Linked DNA regions of Homo sapiens: region 2 is linked to region 1. Evidence: fine-mapped expression QTL. A gene starts in region 1. The other region holds a variant in brackets. All regions are shown on one strand. Distances are between the middles of the regions. Region 1 holds the start of RXFP3 (relaxin family peptide receptor 3). Region 2 overlaps ADAMTS12 (ADAM metallopeptidase with thrombospondin type 1 motif 12).

What was found. PIP is the estimated chance that this variant, and not a neighbour inherited with it, causes the effect.
Region 2: its variant is the best candidate, but not a certain one, in a credible set for the expression of RXFP3 in adrenal gland (GTEx, PIP 0.90).

Annotation. Positions count from the first base shown.
Region 1 is chr5:33,935,238-33,938,150 of GRCh38, forward strand. RXFP3 (relaxin family peptide receptor 3) reads left to right here and starts at 1,149. Exons shown (of 1, transcript NM_016568.3): 1 at 1,149-2,913. The coding sequence starts at 1,504. The coding sequence ends at 2,913.
Region 2 is chr5:33,823,413-33,826,325 of GRCh38, forward strand. The region is part of intron 2 of ADAMTS12 (ADAM metallopeptidase with thrombospondin type 1 motif 12); the gene reads right to left. Among named protein-coding and RNA genes, the nearest start is that of ADAMTS12, 67 kb to the right of the region's middle. The variant G/A (reference allele first, on the strand shown) is at 1,573.

The sequences.
Region 1 (2,913 bases):
TCAAAATTTTAAAGTAAATCCTAAAAGTGTAATTTACACCAGAGCGATTGACCTGGCATTTATGTAGACTGAAGCTTGAGAAGTAATTCAAGTGGTTTCCACTCATTCCCTTGGAAGAGTCCTTAGAATGTACTTCCATTGGTCTGAAAAACGCCTGAAAAAGAGTCCTGATGCTAACAGTAATGGAAATAGGAGGGCTGGTGGTTCACGATCAGCCCAGTGGTATCCTCTATTCTATTTGCATCTAGGTAAAGAGACTGTGGCCTGTATGTGATCAAACAATTTGTTGAAGCGCTTTGGGCTTAGGGCATTTAATTTCTGTGAAGTAGGACCATCAGTTGTTTGCTCTGTTTTTGTGTCACCTCTCAGAATACATTAAAGTAGGGGCAACCCTTGAGCCCAGACTTCTGCCATGTGAAGACCCTTTGAAAATCCTGACAAACACAGGTACTGCGTAAGTGGTCAGCTAATTAAAGAGGGGAGGTGGAGCTGTCCTTTGTGTATCCAATAAGTACCCATTATCTCATTTGAGCATGAAAAGAGGCCACTGTTATTACTTTCAAGAAGGAAAGTAAGCAGGATAGCTCATATTTTTAGAACAATTCCTCACCAAATGGAATAATTCCGGTGAAAAGTGGGAGTGAGGAAGAAAGAAAAAAAAAACTTCTAATCATAATGTTTGGGAATAAGAAAGGAAGAAGAAACTCACGTCAAAGCCGACTTTCTCCTGCAGCTGTAAAATAAACTCTTAAGACCCTTCCTGCTGAAACTCTGGAGAGGAAAACTGGAGTGGCGGGTGGGCTTTGCCTGCAGCTCAACTCTCCCTCGCGGCGCGGGCGCGGCTGGGTTCAGCACCTCGGAAAGCGCCCCTCGCGGCGCCCCGGGATTACGCATGCTCCTTGGGGCCCGCCGCCTTGGCCGTGCAAGTGCCACCGTAACTGGTGAGAGCCGCTGGCAACCCACCCGGAGTTGACAACCGCGGAGAGACGCAGACACCCACTGACCTCCAGGAAGCTGAGCGTGGTGGATGGAACTCTACGATCTCTTTCTCTCCAAGGACGGAAACCTCATCCAAGCAGTCCCAGAGGAAACGGATAAAGGTATTTGAAAGGGAGCGAGCGGCCCCAAATCGCACAATTGAGCGGCTGGGGGAGTTATGCGCCAGTGCCCCAGTGACCGCGGGACACGGAGAGGGGAAGTCTGCGTTGTACATAAGGACCTAGGGACTCCGAGCTTGGCCTGAGAACCCTTGGACGCCGAGTGCTTGCCTTACGGGCTGCACTCCTCAACTCTGCTCCAAAGCAGCCGCTGAGCTCAACTCCTGCGTCCAGGGCGTTCGCTGCGCGCCAGGACGCGCTTAGTACCCAGTTCCTGGGCTCTCTCTTCAGTAGCTGCTTTGAAAGCTCCCACGCACGTCCCGCAGGCTAGCCTGGCAACAAAACTGGGGTAAACCGTGTTATCTTAGGTCTTGTCCCCCAGAACATGACCTAGAGGTACCTGCGCATGCAGATGGCCGATGCAGCCACGATAGCCACCATGAATAAGGCAGCAGGCGGGGACAAGCTAGCAGAACTCTTCAGTCTGGTCCCGGACCTTCTGGAGGCGGCCAACACGAGTGGTAACGCGTCGCTGCAGCTTCCGGACTTGTGGTGGGAGCTGGGGCTGGAGTTGCCGGACGGCGCGCCGCCAGGACATCCCCCGGGCAGCGGCGGGGCAGAGAGCGCGGACACAGAGGCCCGGGTGCGGATTCTCATCAGCGTGGTGTACTGGGTGGTGTGCGCCCTGGGGTTGGCGGGCAACCTGCTGGTTCTCTACCTGATGAAGAGCATGCAGGGCTGGCGCAAGTCCTCTATCAACCTCTTCGTCACCAACCTGGCGCTGACGGACTTTCAGTTTGTGCTCACCCTGCCCTTCTGGGCGGTGGAGAACGCTCTTGACTTCAAATGGCCCTTCGGCAAGGCCATGTGTAAGATCGTGTCCATGGTGACGTCCATGAACATGTACGCCAGCGTGTTCTTCCTCACTGCCATGAGTGTGACGCGCTACCATTCGGTGGCCTCGGCTCTGAAGAGCCACCGGACCCGAGGACACGGCCGGGGCGACTGCTGCGGCCGGAGCCTGGGGGACAGCTGCTGCTTCTCGGCCAAGGCGCTGTGTGTGTGGATCTGGGCTTTGGCCGCGCTGGCCTCGCTGCCCAGTGCCATTTTCTCCACCACGGTCAAGGTGATGGGCGAGGAGCTGTGCCTGGTGCGTTTCCCGGACAAGTTGCTGGGCCGCGACAGGCAGTTCTGGCTGGGCCTCTACCACTCGCAGAAGGTGCTGCTGGGCTTCGTGCTGCCGCTGGGCATCATTATCTTGTGCTACCTGCTGCTGGTGCGCTTCATCGCCGACCGCCGCGCGGCGGGGACCAAAGGAGGGGCCGCGGTAGCCGGAGGACGCCCGACCGGAGCCAGCGCCCGGAGACTGTCGAAGGTCACCAAATCAGTGACCATCGTTGTCCTGTCCTTCTTCCTGTGTTGGCTGCCCAACCAGGCGCTCACCACCTGGAGCATCCTCATCAAGTTCAACGCGGTGCCCTTCAGCCAGGAGTATTTCCTGTGCCAGGTATACGCGTTCCCTGTGAGCGTGTGCCTAGCGCACTCCAACAGCTGCCTCAACCCCGTCCTCTACTGCCTCGTGCGCCGCGAGTTCCGCAAGGCGCTCAAGAGCCTGCTGTGGCGCATCGCGTCTCCTTCGATCACCAGCATGCGCCCCTTCACCGCCACTACCAAGCCGGAGCACGAGGATCAGGGGCTGCAGGCCCCGGCGCCGCCCCACGCGGCCGCGGAGCCGGACCTGCTCTACTACCCACCTGGCGTCGTGGTCTACAGCGGGGGGCGCTACGACCTGCTGCCCAGCAGCTCTGCCTACTGA
Region 2 (2,913 bases), 110 kb before region 1:
CCTCTCTTTTTTATGTAGTTATTCACAAGAGAAACAACATCCTTCAACCACTAGCAAACAAGGTACAAATATAATGATCAATGGTGACTACCACATGTTGGTCTTAGTGTCAGAAAAAAAGAGAGGTAGTGGTGGGAGCTACAGTGAGTAGACGGGACTCACCCTGTAGGGAGGGGAGACTCAGCCCCCAGTGACTCTGGCCCAGCTGGCATAAAAGCCTATTGCTATAACATTTTCTGCCTTTTTTTTTTTTAAGAAGAAGAAACTTCACATGTTTAGGTGGAAACTCCTGATATTTACCTGTCAGTTTTGGCTTATTTTCAATATTATGGAATCCAAATAAAATATGTTGTATGTCTTCGTTAATCCGTTTCAGAATGACCCTTGAGATTCCTTCAATGAGAAAAAATTATCTGATTGAGACAGGGGTCTCGTTTTTAGAATAAAAAATAGGGTGAATTGGGGCAGAGAAGGAAGAGTGTGAAGAAAAATAATTGATGAATATGTTGGTTAATTGGACTGTGGTGATCATTATGCTATGCATACATGTATCAAATCATGTTATACACCTTGAATATATACAATTTTTACTGGTCAGTTATATACCCCAATAAAGCTTGTTGAAAAAGAAAAAAGTTTTAAATTGTTAAAGAGTCCCAAGCATATCATGGTCATGAGCCAACTCACTCACTGAGGAAAACCTCTTTCTTCTCAATAATAATAGATCATAACAAGCACTAAGATATCCTAAGAACTAAATCCCAGATACTGGGCTAGGGCTTTATATGGTTAATTTTACTTCACCTCAAGGTCACACAGCTTGAGCCTGACCCAGGACTCAACCCTAGACTTCTATGCTACCTTCCCGTGAAGCCACCTGCCAGAAGACGGGAACAGAAAGGGGGGACTTACGGGTTTGCAGCAGCCCCAGTGAAGAGCTGTGGGCCTCGAATGCCCTTGAAGGTAGGTTCCCTTCTATATTAAAAGATCATTTGGTCAGTTCATTTTTAGAAGAGGACATTGCCCCCAGGTTTACATTTTTGTAGGCTTCAATGGAGCAAGTTAGTCCATATAAAAATAAAAAACAAATGAGCAATCATAACATAATCATACCTAAAGAATAGATTCCTCCACTCTAAGTCACTGTCTTCATCCAGACCAGGAGTGTAAAGCAAAAAAGAGAGGGCTGTGCTGGTTGCCTGAGAAGAGGAGCCTGTCAGCTGTGCTAATGAGTGGCTGTCTAGGGGCAGGCCATCAGTTCAGGAGTACAAGTGAGGAAGAAAGGCTCGTGACAGTGTTGCAGCAGAGACTGCCTCAGTGTTCACCTTCCCATTTCCTCTTTCTGGTCACACAAGAAAACTTCCCAGCATCCCTTGCTCTGTAAAGTTACACAGTTAAGGCTAGGATGATACTTCCCAATCTGGCCCCTAAAATCTCCTAGAAGACTCTCAGCTCATACTTTGATAGCTTTTCAGCAGAATGGGAAGTGAGGGACTCTAACACTGCAAAAGCCACATGATGAAGGAGTTTGGATTCCTGAGCTACCACTGGAAGGAGAGTTATTTCTTGGAG[G/A]GGAGCCATCCCACTAGAGATGCTGACCCAGACTGTGCTATCGTGTGAATGAGAAATAAAATTTGATATTAGCCACTAAGATTTGGCAGCTGTGTGTTAAAAGTAGCTAGCAAGCACATCCTAATAGAGTTCCCGGGAAAACTACAGCGGTTTCACCCATGCTTATGCAAAGATCCAGTTTGCAAAATCATTTCTGCTCTGCAAAGAGCTTACTATTAAGAAGGTCTCTTTGTGGAGGTGGCTCCACAAAGCATGCTGAAAATCCCTTATATGTATGAAGAGTCAAGTCATCTACTGAAATTCCAGACAAATCTTCCTGACCATATCCAAGAACACAGAGTACGTGCAAGTTTCCAGGATTCTGGTGATATCAATGAATGTGCTGTGGGCTCAAACTTTTTAGAGAGGAAAACTGAGCTGGATATATCATGTCATTAGATGAGAGATTTAGTCAGTGGCCAAAGCTGGATGAGTGTAAGTAAGAGCTGCATGAATGTTGCAGAAACTCTGGCAAAGAGGAAAATTTGTACATTCAGGATTTGTGTTGCAGATGCTACACAAACCCAAAAGGAACTAAAGGGCAAAAAGCATATGAGTCTCTTAACTAATTGCATAAAACTATTTGATCAAGGTAGTGCTTTAAAATTTTATGTGATCAGAATTGTTTTTGTTTTTGCAAAGAAAGATCAGGTAATTTCCAGTGATAATTCTAAAATGTATGGTTTTTGCTTTGCAAATCGATAGAGGAAGAAGCAATAATCCATTATACAAAAACTCTCTGGAAGTGGGAGAGAAAGTAAGACCAAACGGCAAGCAATTCTTTCCAAATGAGTTTTGGTTCAACTCCTCCGTGGAGACCTTGCTAGCAGTATTCTTGTCATGTGGTTCCTCAGTTATGTAACCAGAAGAGAGTATCTCCAAACTAGAATCAAGTTTGGTCTAGATGCTGTGGCTGCACCAGCTCACCTCTGCAAATTGAATTTAGAAAACTCCACACTGGAACAGATCTCTACCTTGCCATAGTTGAACAGGCGGTACACATCATTTGACTTCGTTATGTGAACTGCAGTTAGGAGGTGTTAAAAAAAGAAGTCCTCTTAAAAACAGGGAAGATGAAACTACATCACCTCTATACTCCTAGATGATTTGTTGGTGAGAAGAGTTAGGGACATTTCTAAGGGAAGTCAAGAAATAAATTGTTTTCTCTACTTCTCTTTGAAAATTTTATATTCAATTTATGCATCTTGATGTGGTCTACAATAGTGTGCTTAGCAAAGAACTTTTCTTCCTCAGCTATGGAACTTAAACTTATAAAAATGATAGTCTGCTCAGTGAGGGCAA